Homo sapiens: one gene and its partners. The protein of the gene in region 2 purifies or fractionates together with the protein of the main gene of each other region. This does not show direct contact. Each region holds a gene or a part of one and is shown on either strand. Other genes may lie near its edges. The genes, in order: NQO2, RELB, XPNPEP3 and HSD17B4.

Evidence for each region.
Region 1: the proteins of RELB (region 2) and NQO2 purify together in Homo sapiens (tandem affinity purification; one large-scale study listed by IntAct). This does not show direct contact.
Region 3: the proteins of RELB (region 2) and XPNPEP3 purify together in Homo sapiens (affinity purification with mass spectrometry, with the first as the bait; one large-scale study listed by BioGRID). This does not show direct contact.
Region 4: the proteins of RELB (region 2) and HSD17B4 purify together in Homo sapiens (tandem affinity purification; one large-scale study listed by IntAct). This does not show direct contact.

Annotation. Positions count from the first base shown.
Region 1 is NC_000006.12:3,006,328-3,009,898, forward strand, and holds part of NQO2 (ribosyldihydronicotinamide dehydrogenase [quinone]), read left to right. Parts: intron 1-140; 5' UTR 141-225; coding exon 226-232; intron 233-3,571. UniProt on the Homo sapiens protein: The enzyme apparently serves as a quinone reductase in connection with conjugation reactions of hydroquinones involved in detoxification pathways as well as in biosynthetic processes such as the vitamin K-dependent gamma-carboxylation of glutamate residues in prothrombin synthesis.
Region 2 is NC_000019.10:45,014,932-45,018,502, reverse strand, and holds part of RELB (transcription factor RelB), read right to left. Parts: intron 1-3,571.
Region 3 is NC_000022.11:40,930,099-40,933,337, reverse strand, and holds the end of XPNPEP3 (xaa-Pro aminopeptidase 3), read right to left. Parts: 3' UTR 523-3,239; downstream 1-522. UniProt on the Homo sapiens protein: Catalyzes the removal of a penultimate prolyl residue from the N-termini of peptides, such as Leu-Pro-Ala. Also shows low activity towards peptides with Ala or Ser at the P1 position.
Region 4 is NC_000005.10:119,539,446-119,542,852, reverse strand, and holds the end of HSD17B4 (peroxisomal multifunctional enzyme type 2), read right to left. Parts: intron 949-3,407; coding exon 859-948; 3' UTR 521-858; downstream 1-520. UniProt on the Homo sapiens protein: Bifunctional enzyme acting on the peroxisomal fatty acid beta-oxidation pathway.

The DNA of each region.
Region 1 (3,571 bases), on a different chromosome or scaffold from region 2:
AAGATTCCTGGCCTCTCTTGAGAGGTCTTTCTCTGATGTGTTTGCGTGTCTGTCAGGAAGCAGCAGTGATGCCTAGATGTGGTACATTCGACCTCACCTATGCCTCTCCCCACCCCCTCTGGGTTCGTTTTGTCTTCCAGATTGCTGGACTCGCTGAAGAGAGACTACGCAGGAAAGCCCCAGCCACCCATCAAATCAGAGAGAAGGAATCCACCTTCTTACGCTATGGCAGGTAATGATTCACTATTGTGGAGTAAGACTTTTTTTTTTTTGAGATGGGATTTTGTTGTATTGCCCAGGCTGGTCTCAAACTCCTGAGCTCAAGTGACCCTCCCACATTGACCTTCCAGGTGGGAGTTAGACTCTTAATCAGAAATTGGATACATTGTTGTAAAAAATCCAAGCCACGTGGAAGTGTATAAACTATCTGGAATTATCTTGTTTTCTATGTTCTCACTTGTTTCATTGTTCCTTTCGACTCCCTCCAGAATTTAGGTTCCTCAAAAGTGGGGCCCTGCCTATCCTGTCTTTGCTGTGCCTCCAGGCCCTGAAATTCTCCCTGGGCTGTAGCAGGGGCTCAAGTGAATGAACCCCAGGAGGCATCTTGGGTAAAAATTCAGTACGATTCTATCTTTGCTTTTGCAACTGCTTATCATGCACATATACATGAACATGCAATCTCTCAACTTTTTAATTTCACCTAACGATATAACATGGAGAGCCTTTCGTGTTAGAACGCACAGGTTCACCTTACTCTATACATTATGGTGTAGATTCGGATTTTCGCCCTTGGCACCACTGACATTCTGGGCCAGATAATCCTATGTTTTGGGGGGTCATCCTGTGCACCCTGTTTAGCACCTAGCACCATCCCTGGCCTCTGCCCACCAGATGCCAGTAGCACCCCTCCCCCACCGGCTGTGACAAACCAAAATGTCTCCAGGCATTGAGAAACGTCCCCTAGCAGGCACAACACTGCCCCAGTTGAGAACCATTGGTGTAGGTATTTCATTTGCATCTATTCTCCTGTTAAGCCCCTAAGTATAGTTCCTTTATTGAAACAAGAGTCTGAGAAAGTAAAATTAAAATGTTAACCATGAATCTAACTTATGGAATTCAACCTTTGTAGCCAGCTCAATGCCCTGAAACCCATTGCTTCAAACTGATACGTGTATCTTTTCCTTAAAGTGTCATTATGAAAAATTTAAATCAAGAGTTTAACATCTTCTTAAAGGTGACCAGGGTAAATTTAATTAAGCAAATCACCAGGCTGCCTCCCAGACGAAGTCAGTATATAAGCCTGGAGACTCTTTCCAATGAGGAAAATACTGCTTCAGAAGCCCCTGGTGTGAACGATACTGCCAGTGCCAGGAGGGCCTGACTCTTCCTAGAGTCCTCTTTGTTATCAGCATCACCACTGAAAGATGGGCTCCATGTGGCCCTGCCTTCCCATGAGACCAGCGGGTCTGATTCCTCATGTTTTGTTTAAGTGTCAGATTTGATGGACTGGGGGAGATGGAAGCAGAACTGTGCCACACTGAAAGGTGCCTGTAGCTGATATCTGCAAATGTAGGGTTAGCATGGAAGACTAATTCCAGCAGTTCTTTATTTTGGTGTTAGGGAGCTGGTCTAAACCTTCTTACAGAGGATAACCAAATTAGGTTGGGCTTTTAAAAGATTTAGTGGTGGTATTTTTGAGGAGATATAATTTGACCCATTGTATTGTGATGTTGAGCTATGAATAACTGGATTTTTAAAATGCCCATTGCTTTAAAACTGCCACCTATTAGAAAGTTTGGTATTTCTGGGGCCAGGTGCTGTGGCTCATACCAGTAATCCCAGCACTCTGGGAGGCCAAGGTGGGCAGATCACCTGAGGTCGGGAGTTCGAGACCAGCTTGACCAACATGGAGAAACCCGGTCTTAACTAAAAATACAAAAAATTATCCGGGCGTGGTGGCGCATGCCTGTAATCCCAGCTACTCAGGAGGCTGAGGTAGGAGAATTGCTTGAACCCGGGAGGCAGAGGTTGCAGTGAGCTGGGATCGTTGCTCCAGCCTGGGCAACAAGAGCGAAACTCTGTTTCAAAAAAAAAAAAAAAGAAAAAGAAAAAAGGAAAGAAAAGAAAGTTTGGTGTTTCTGGCCAAGTGCGGTGGCTCATGCCTGTAATCCCAGCACTTTGGGAGGCCAAGGCGGGTGGATCACTTGAGGCCAGGAGTTCAAGACCAGCCTGGCCAACATGGCAAAATCCCATCTGTACTAAAAATACAAAAAATTAGCTGGGCGTAGTGGCACACATCTATCGGGGGAAATTCAGCCAGATATTGGGCGAAATTCACCCCCAATATTTCACGTAGGTTCTTTTCTATATTTCCTAAGTGTCGGCCGGTCTGAGAAATAAACGGACAGAGTACAAAAGAGAGAAATTTTAAAGCTGGGTGTCCAGGGGAGACATCACATGTCGGCAGGTTCCGTGATGCCCCCAAGCCGTAAAACCAGCAAGTTTTTATTAGTGATTTTCCAAAGGGGAGGGAGTGTACAAATAGAGTGTGGGTCACAGAGATCACATGCTTCACAAGGTAATAGAATATCACAAAGCAAATGGAGGCAGGGCGAGATCACAGGACCACGGGACGGGGCGAAATTAAAATTGCTAATGAAGTTTTGGGCACCATTGTCATTGAGAACATCTTATCAGGAGCCAGGGTTTGAGAGCAGACAACCGATCTGACCAAAATTTATTAGGCAGGAATTTCCTTGTCTTAATAAGCCTGGGAGCGCTACGGGAGACTGGGGCTTATTTCATCCCTACAGCTGGACCATAAAAGACAGCTGCCGCCCCGAAGCGGCCATTTCAGAGGCCCACCCTCAGGGACGCATTCTCTTTCTCAGGGATGTTCCTTGCTGAGAAAAAGAATTCAGCGATATTTCTCCCATTTGCTTTTGAAAGAAGAGAAATATGTCTCTGTTCCGCCTGGCTCACCGGCAGTGAGAGTTTAAGGTTATCTCTCTTGTTCCCTGAACATTGCTGTTATCCTGTTCTTTTTTCAAGGTGCCCAGATTTCATATTGTTCAAACACACATGCTCTGCAAACAATTTGTGCAGTTAACACAATCATCACAGGGTCCTGAGGCAATATACATCCTCCTCAGCTTATGAAGATGATGGGATTAAGAGATTAAAGTAAAGACAAGCATAGGAAATCACATGGGTATTGATTGGGGAAGTGATAACTGTCCATGAAATCTTCACAATTTACGTTCAGAGATTGCAGTAAAGACAGGCATAAGAAATTACAAAAGTATTAATTTGGGGAACTAATAAATGTCCACGAAATCTTCACAATTTATATTCTTCTGCCATGGCCTCAGCCAGTTGCTCCATTCGGGGTCCCTGACTTCCCACGAAACACACCTGTAGTCCCAGCTAGTCAGGAGACTGAGGCATGAGAATCACTTGAACCTGGGAGGCAGAGGTTGCAGTGAGCTGAGATCATGCCACTGCATTCCAGCCTGGGTGACAGAGTGAGACTGTCTAAAAAGAAGAGAGAGAAAGAGACAGAAAGAAAAGA
Region 2 (3,571 bases):
TCAAGCCATTCTCGTCTCTACCTTCTAAGTAGCTAAGATTACAGGTGCCTGCCACCATGCCTGGCTAATTTTTGTATTTTTATTTTATTTTACTTTTTTGAGATGGAGTCTCGCTCTGTTGGCCAGGCTGGGGTGCAGTGGCACGATCTCAGCTCACTGCACGCTCCACCTCCTGGGTTCACGCCATTCTCCTGCCTCAGCCTCTCGAGTAGCTGGGACTATAGGCGCCCGCCACCACACCTGGCTAATTTTTTGTATTTTTAGTAGAGACGGGGTTTCACCATGTTAGCCAGGATGGTCTCCACCTCCTGACCTTGTGATCTGCCTGCCTTAGTCTCCCAAAGTGCTGGGATTACAGGCCTGAGCCACCACGCTCGGCCAAGAATTTTTGTATTTTTAGTATAGATGGGGTTTCTCCATGTTGGCCAGGCTGGTCTCGAACTCCTGACCTCAGGTGATCCACCTGCCTCGGCCTCCCAAAATGCTGGGATTACAGGCGTGAGCCACCGCGCCTGGTCTCTAGGTTTAAATTCTTTTATCATCCAAACTAATCAAAAGGGCTGGGCACGGTGGTTCGTGCCTGCAATCCCAGCACTTTGGGAGGCTGAGGCGGGTGGATCACCTGAGGCCAGGAGTTCGAGACCAGCCTGGGCAACATGGCAAAACCCCCTCTCTACTAAAAATACAAAATTAGCCAGGCATGATGGTACAGGCCTGTAATCCTACCAACTCAGGAGGCTGAGGCAAGAGGACTGCTTGAACCTGAGAGGCAGAGATCGCACCATTGCACTCCAGCCTGGGCAACAAGAGCAAAACTCTGTCTCAAAAAAAAAAAAAAAGGAATAATAACAAATTCATCAAAATGTATACATTAAGTATGTGCAATTTTTCTTACATCAATTATACCTCAATAAAACTTAAAAAGAAAAACTAGACAGGAAAAAACTAAAACTTTTTTTTCCAAGTAAAAGATTAGGAAAAACTTGGAGCCCACAATTAAAATTATAAGACATCACATTATTTCGGATTTCCAGAATTGTTTTTTTTTTTTTTAGACAGATTCTCTCTGTTGCCCAGGCTGGAGTGCAGTGGTGCGATCCCAGCCTCCAGGGCCTCGAACTCCTAACCTCAGGTGGTCCGCCCACCTCGGCCTCCCCAGATTTTTCTTTTTTAAAAAAGGAAGATATAGCAAGTGAAGCCAGAATTTTTGCTCAGCAGCCACAGGCAGCAGCAAATAAAAACCAGCCCCGTTAGGCAGGGCCAGTCCCACTTGGCAGCTTTGAGTCACTGGCTCAGCCCTGCTGGCATTAAATACCTTCTGAAGCCTGCTCTGAACTTCTAAAGCCCAAGCCTATAAAATACCATTAACCATTGGTCTCAGTGGGGGAGTGCTGCCCCCTAGGGGAAAAATGGGATTTGGGGGGTGGCTGGTTGACACTGATGTGGACCCTACCGCAAGTAGACAGGACCAGTTATGCTGGACAGTTTATAATACCAGGGACAGTCCCGCACAGCCATCCCACAGCCAGCAAGCCTTCTGAACATCCTGCCAAAGATTCGAGTCAATAAGAAACCTGTTTAAAATGACCAGATCCCAGAAACTTGCTCTATTGTTGCTGAGTGGATTTGTTTGTTTGTTTGTTTGTTTGTTTTTAAGACAGGATCTCGCACAGGCTGGAGTGCAATGGCACGATCTCAGCTCACTGCAACCTCCGCCTCCCAGACTCAAGCAATACTTCCACTTTAGTCTCCCAAACATCTGGGCTTACAGGCATGCATCACACCTGGCCCTTGCTCTGTTTGACACCAATAATATTCTTTCCCATAATTGTTTTTCCTTTTTCTTTTTTGAGACGAGGTCTAACTCTGTCACCCAGGCTGGAGTTTCCCATAACTGTAATACCCACTGAATTTTCAAAGATTGCAACCAGCACACTAATTGTTTAGACCAAGAGTTGTTCGCCACTTTGGAAAATCCCCTCACCAACCGCAACCCTGCACGTGTGACATATAAGTCACTAAGTCTGCGCAGCTGGGTCAGGCTGCATTTGTGGCCACGGCATTAACAAGGAGCCTATATATAGTCACAAACAACTGCCACCTTCCTCATATATCCTGTGGGGCGTTTACATATTGAAATAAATGTGATTATATATGCTGTATTAATTTCCTTTTCTTTCTCTTTTATACTACAGTTTGGTGTAAAATATGGAGTTTTGGCCAGGCACGGTGGCTCACGCCTGTAATCCCAGCACTGTGGGAGGCTGAGGCAGGCAGATCACTTGAGGTCAGGAGTTCGAGACCAGCCTGGCCAACATGGTGAAACCCCGTCTCTACTAAAAACACAAAAATTAGCCGGGCCTGCTGGCAGGTGCCTGTAATCTCAGCTACCCGGGAGGCTGAGGCAGGAGAATCACTTGAACTCAGGAGGCGGAGGTTGCATGCCACTGCACTCCAGCCTGGGTGACAGAGCGAGACTGCATCTCAAAAAAAAAATAATAATAAAATAAAATAAAATATGGACTTTGGGAGTGACTGTGAATAGAGGTAGGTAATATTGTCTACAAATCTCACTGGGTCAGATAGGGTTAAAACCATTCATTTAACCAGCTCCCCGCTGTAATAGTAGGAGATTCTGAAAAGCTTAGAGTCAACAGTCTCGGACTCATGCAGACTCCAGGGCTGAAAGCTTTTCATCCTTGAGATGTCAGTTGGGACTGTGGAAAAAACATTAGACTTTAGTTGTTTCTTTTTTCTTTTTTTTTTTTGAGATAGCATCTTTCTCTGTCACCCAGACTGGAGTGCAGTGGTGTGACCATGGCTCACTGCAGCCTCCACTTCCCAGGCTCAAGCAATCCTCCCCATTCAGCCTCCCATGGTGCTGGGACCCCAGGCGCATGCCACCACGCCTGGCTAATTTTTTTATTTTTATAGAGACGGGCATCTTGCCATGTCACCTGGGCTGGTCTTGAACTCCTGGCCTCAAGTGATCCTCCTGCCTTAGTCTCCCAAGGTGCTGGGATCACAGGCATGAGCCACCATGCCTGGCCCATTAGGCTTTAGAATAAGTCCGACCTGGCACCAAATCCAGGCTCTACCACTGGCCATCTACAAGATAAACCTCTCGGGTCTTACTGTCTTTATGTGTAAAATAGGTATGCAAAGTACCTGGTACATGGAAGCACTCAGTAAATGGCGGTAATTACAATAGTAAACTTGCTGTGTGCCCTGTGCAGGTAACTGCCCCTCTTTTAACCTCAGTTTCCTACTCTGAAGATGGGGATAAACATCCTGAATCCAAGCCAGGCATGCTGGCTCATGCCTGTAATCCCAGCACTTTGGGAGGCCGAGGCAGGTGGATTACCTGAGGGCAGGAGTTTGACATCAGCCTGGCCAATGTGGTGAAACCCTGTCTCTACTAAAAATACAAAAATTAGCTGGGCATGGTGGTGCACACCTGTAATCCCAGCTACTTGGGAGGCTAAGACAGGAGAATCGCTTGAACCCAGGAGGCGGAAGTTGCAGTGAGCTGAGATCACACCACTGCACTCCAGCCTGGGCAACAGAGCAA
Region 3 (3,239 bases), on a different chromosome or scaffold from region 2:
CCACTCAGCCCCCTCAAATTTGTTCCATTGTGCCATACAAAGTATCTTTTTGTGCCTGCCAGAACGTGAGAAATGTTAAAGGTACTCCTCATAGACAGTCTCAGATTTTAAAGATGGTTCCTAACAGGGAGAGAGAGATGGCTACACTTACGATTCATTATATGGTTGACAAAGGTCAAATATTCATAATTTTGCAACTTGATCCTATTTCCCCACAAAATTCATCCTTCATAAAATGTGCATGGCTACAGTTTACAGTCTTGAGTGTTATGGGGACTTTCTGGAGACCTTTCAGTCAGTTTTGTGCCAACCTTTTAATAGGCTGGATCAAATCCACCAGATTCTTCCTCTATAAGACTGATAAAATCATTTCAAGTTTGCTATCATGATTTTGTGACAGCAGCTAATGAATACTTTGTAAATTATTTTGTAAAACCAGATGGTCTCACGTTTATACTGTTTATACTAAATAGACCGTAAACTCTAGATTCTAAAGTAACACACACACACCATACCCCTCTATATTGTTTTATAGTTTTATTTTTTTTAAATGACAGTTACAAGTGCTTTTCCCTTGATGGGCAATGACGTAACTATTTTCAGTTATTAGTAATGCCTTAAAAAGTAACAGCATTTTGTCTAAACTGAACTTATATAATTGCACAAAAGTCATGGAAAGCATTAAGAAATGCTGGTAAAGATTGAAGTTTTCTCAGATTCTTGCGCAATTCCAAGAAGCCTTGATTCCAGTGGGTCCTCTGATTCAAACAATAATGATGCTCAAACTCAGTGACACACAGGTAGAGAACAGCAGCACAACCAGGAGAACCCATGTGGTTTGTAACAGTGAAATTCTGCTCTACTGTTAAGGTTTAATGATGCATTCATTCATCTTTTCATTAGGAGCATAAAAAACACCTCAAATTATATTTTCTCAGGCTTAAAACTTGTTTTGAGCTATGGATTCTACTTCAGGAAACAAAAATTAAAAAAAAAAAAACACAATCACACCATAAAAACCTCTTCTAAGCAGGTTCCTTTATGTTGCTACTGTCTGTGGTGCCTGCCTAATTTTCTAATAGACACACAAACGAATTACATTCTCAGCTATCAGACACTAGTTGAGGGACAGCAGATAGGTTCTAACTCAAATTCTGTTTTATTGGCAGAAGTTATTGGAAACACTGTTACAAAGGACTCCGAGGTCACCGCTGGACTGGTGAACAGCTCACTGTGCTTTCTTCTCCATCTCTGACATGGGAACAGGAGGGGGAGAAGCAGCATTTGTGCTTCACATTTCTGATCTCTGTATTATTAACAAAGCTGAACAGGGTGTGGGTGTGGATATTTGGAAAGACATAACAAAGGTACATTTTTCTGTTTTAATAAGTTGCAATGTCTTTAGATGGAGGTTTAACATGTTTTATTTGTATCTTAATCTCAAGACAGTATTTCTACGGTGAAGGTTTTTCCCTTTCTCACCTTACAAAAACGGAGAAAAAAGCAAGGTTTTGAAGGAAGATGCACACACAGTACTTTAAGTTACTCTCAGAAGCATTTTCCTAACGTGGATACTATGATTATGAGAGGAGGAGAGTTCTCACTCCAGTTTTTCTCTTCTTTTTTATTGAGACAGGGTCTTTCTCTGTTGCCCAGGGTGAAGTGGCACAATCATGGCTCACTGCAGCCTTGACCTCCTAAGCTCAAGCGATCCTCCCACCTCAGCCTCCTGAGTAGCTGGGACTATAGGTGCAAACCACCACACCTGGCTAACTTTAAATTTTTTTGTTGAGACAAGGTCTCTCTATGTTGCCTAGGCTGGTCTCAAACTCCTGGGCTCAAGTGACCATCCCTCCTTGGTCTCCCAAAGTGCTGGGATTATAGCTGTGATCCACTGCACCCAACTTTACTATAGTATTTATACTGTTGTGTTTCAAATAAAGAACACAGTCTGTTTCCTAATTATGGTGACAAAATAGTAATTCCTGAAATAAATACATAAAAGTATGTGACACTGGATATCCAGATATGTTTCCTTCATTTAGGTGGTATTGTTAATGATCTAACCATGTATCTTCAATTCAGGGAGAAAAATTCCAGTAGTAACATTTGAGTAATTTTTTTTAAGTTAAGATTTTTAATAGGAATGCCTGGTATATATATTATTTATTATACTTAGAACTAAAGGCTCGGCTGGGCACGGTGGCTCACACCTGTAATCCCAGCACTTTGGGAGGCCAAAGTGGGCAGATCACGAGGTCAGGAGATCAAGACCATCCTGGCCAACATGGTGAAACCCTGTCTCTACTAAAAATACAAAAATTAGCTGGGCATGGTGGTGCGTGCCTGTAATCCCAGCTACTTGGGAGGCTGAGGCAGGAGAACTGCTTGAACCAGGGAGTTGGAGGTTGCAGTGAGCCAAGATGGCGCCACTACACTCCAGCCTGGCGACAAAGCAAGACTGTCTCTGGCTGGGGGCCGTGGCTCATGCCTGTAATCCCAGCAGTTTGGGAAGCTGAGGTGGGTGGATCACAAGGTCAGGAGATCAAGACCAGCCTGGCCTGGCCAAGATGGTGAAACCCCGTCTCTACTAAAAATACAAAAATTGGGTGTGGTGGCAGGTGCCTGTAATCCCAGTTACTAGGGAGGCTGAGGCAGGAGAATTGGTTGAAGCCGGTGGGTGGAGGTTGCAGTGAGCCAAGATCACACCACTGTACTCCAGCCTGGGTGACAGAGTGAGACTCTATCTCAAAAAAAAAAAAGAACTAAAGGCTCAACACAAATAAATGATAAATGTTCAATGTGATGGATATGCTAATTGTTCTGATCTGATCATTATATATGTATCAAAACATCATTATTTACCCTGTAAATACGTACAATTATATGTCAATTAAAAACTTTAAAAAGGCTGGGTGCAGTGGCTCACGCCTGTAATCCCAGCACTTTGGGAGGCTGAGGTGGGCAGATTATGAGGTCAGGAGATTGAGACCATCCTGGCTAACACAGTAAAACCCCATCTCTACTAAAAATACAATAAACTAGCCGGGCATGGTGGCACGCGCCTGTAGTCCCAGCTACTCAGGAGGCTGAGGCAGAAGAATTGCCTGAACCCGGGAGATGGAGGTTGCAGTGAGCCAAGATCGTGCCACTGCACTCCAGCCTGGGTGACAGAGCGAGACTCCATCTCAAAAAAAAAAAAAACAAAAAAACCCCACAAAAAACCTTTAAAAAAAAAA
Region 4 (3,407 bases), on a different chromosome or scaffold from region 2:
GCTCATAAAAGCACCTCCCAAATCAACTTCCTGCACATGAATCTCCATCTGAAAGTCAGCTTCCTGGGAAACTCAGCCCATACTAGCCACCCACACATATTCTCCTCAGCTGTGTTACCTGATTGAAATTTACTCCATCTCTGAGCTTAGCATACCACCTGCTGCTGGTCACCTCTGCAGCCAACTCATCCAAAGAGCATCTCCCAGTGCACTTCATCAGAGCTAAATGCTGAGGAAAACAGTGATGTGGCAGTACTTGCTAGTGACTATCTTTCTGTTTTGAGACTGCTGATTCTTCAAGAAAGCTACACTTGGTAGATTTATAAACATTATATGTAGTAAAGAATTTCCAGCAAAGGGGAGGGGAGAAGAAAGAAAACTATTTGGGAGCACAAAGACTTTTCTCTTGCTTTAAAAGAGAATACTATCAGAACAAAGTATGAAAAATGAGTGCATACATGGAAATTCACATAAAAACTGGGGTATCAATAAATAAAAAAACAGAAAATCACAAAAAAACAAAGGTATCAAAGGCCTTTATTGATTTAATTTTCCTTTCAACTTATCAATGCTATCACAAATTCTAAGGAAACAGGACTTGGGCAAAATTTTTTATTATGAAGATACAGATCTAAGAACAGAAGGATAATTATGTGCTAGCTTATATATAGTTCCTTGTAAAAATAATGATACATGAAAAATTAGTAGAAAATGAAAATCTGCAGTTATCTGATATCTGAAAATGTTAAGCAATTTCCCCTGCATCTTAGTTCTAATCACTTTTGCAGAATAATCAAGCATATTTGGGTGAAGAGAGTATTTAATGATTCCATTTTTATTAATAGTGTAGTGTGCCCTTCAGAGCTTGGCGTAGTCTTTAAGAATCATCTGAAGTTTCTGGCTCAGCATGATGTTCCCTCTGGCCTTCAGCCTGCCACTAAAGAATGCCTGCAAGGAGAGGAGGGAAAAAGAGTGCCAACTGTTACCATGTTATAGTTTATTTCTTTTTTTTTTTTTTAAGATTATTCAGACTGAATACAATTGAGCTAATAATTCTGGACAACAAAGGCAACCTTTATTTAGCAATGACAATTTAATAACTACAGATAGCACATTTTTTTAGACATCTAAAAAAAAGAAAAATCATTCCTGTGTATTTTAGAAAACTATACAATAATTTATCTGAACTCATGGATCTGGGAGTTCTGTTTCAACCTACGTTTCTGGCTTTACTTTATGTTCTTACAATTTGAGACCATATTAATAAAAGGCTACACTGTATTCCTAATAAAAATATTCAATTCAGAACTTCTAAAAGCAGATTTAAAATATTTACTACAGTTTCATGAACTAGAAAGCCACGAAATGACAAATTAGAGAATATAACACAATGTTGAATAGATCACAGCTGTAGCATCAGAATGCCTGAGTTAAAATCCAGGCTGTGCCCCTTAATAGCAAGGTGAGCTTGAGAAAATGCTTAGATACGTGGCCTCTGTGAGTTTCAATCTCCTCATCTATAAAAGGCATAACAACAGTCCCTAAATAACACAACTCTGTTGTGCGTGTTAAATAAAGTAATGTGTAGAGTGCTTAGCTTAGTAGTTTGACATGTGATAAGAGAGTATTAATTCATCATTACCAAGCAAAAGCTGGTGTGTTAAAAACGAAGGGTTCCTGTAGCAGTTTTGTATCTAACCTGATACAGAAACTGGTGCAAGTTCCTTAAGTTCTCCTTCAGTGTAAATTCCCTATCAGTAAAATAAAAATAATCAATCATAGTTTTTATAGCTTACATAAAATATGAAGTGAAAAAGCCTCTAGATTTCTAGCTAAATGGAAAAAATAGTGATACCTACATACACTGAGCATTACAAAGCAGCTCCACAAATATAATCTCATTTAAGAATTACAGCTGTCAATTTGAAGTGGGCACATCAGCAGTTCTTACCCCAGTTGACAGATGAGAAACTGAATTTCAGAGAGCTTATTAAATAACCTGCTCAAGTCTACAGAGCCAGCAAGAAGTAGGGCCAGGGCTTAAACTCAGGTGTTCTTTGCTCAGCAATGCTTGTTAACAATACTTGTTAACGAGCAGCACTTAGTCTCAGAAGCAAACCCTCGTGAACTGGAGAAAAGGCAACAACTTTTTATTCCAGAAATAGTCAGAGAGAGCTCATTCAGTCACAATCAAATGCATTCAAACAGGAGACCAGAATTTCAAAACTAAGATTTCTTTCACTATGCAGTTACAAAAAACAAACAAACAAAACGATGGTCTGCAACTCATGCAGGGAAGGAGTCAGTACTTAGGCCAGCCTGCTATGTACTAAACTCTGAAAGAGATTTACAACCTAAAACAAGAACACCTAATTACTAGAAGTAAAAATATCAATTTTGGACATTTTTGAGCAGAAGAATTTTGTACATAAATCTTTCCTCCTATCTATTTTCTTATTTCTTAAAGCCCTTAACCATACGTCCATATTGCCAGTTTCCAAACTCTGCACTGCCATGCACCGGACATCACAGCAAACTCTCTCAGGGACACTTTCCCAATACTGTTAATTTGGGAGGGAAATACAGTCATACTGGTTGAACACAAAAAACTAATTGTTTTGAACTACTTCATAAATGAAACTGTTAGGTATATGGTTTGGCCTAGGAGTGCCATGCAAAAAGTAGTAAGACTATAAACTGCCATAAAGGAAGAAGGTCTGGAAGCACTGTGCTTTCCAGAAAGGCTATACCAACTACTGATTGATTGACACAGGGTCTTGCTCTGTCACCCAGGCTACAGCTGCATGATCACACTCACTGCAGCCTAAGCCTCCTGGGCTCAAGTGATCCTCCCAACTCAGCCTCTCAAGTAGCTGGGACTACAGGTGTGTGCCACCACACCAGGCTAATTTTTTTTTTTTTTTTTTTTTGGTAGAGACAGGGTCTCACTGTCTCACCCAGGCTCAAACTCCTGGACTCAAGCAATCCTCCTGCCTTGGCCTCCCAAAGTGCTGGAACTACAGGCACGAGACATTGTCCCTGGCCTATACCAATTTTATATTCCCTCCAGTTGTGTGTAAATTATCTTATCCCAACCTTAAAAATACTATTTTCTTACACTTTGAAAATATGAGGCAAAAATAACATGCTTTAATTTGTATTTTTGGATACTGGGAAAAATTTTTTTCTTTTGTATGTTAGTCATTTCTATTTATTTCATTAATTATTGTTCCATACCTTTTGTCCACTTCTTCTTTTTTATTATTATTATTATACTTTAAGTTCTAGGGTACATGTGCACAATGCGCAGGTTTGTTACATATGTATACATGTGCCATGTTGGTGTGCTGCACCCGTTAACTCGTCATTTAGCATTAGGTATATCTCCTAATGCTATCCCTCCCCCC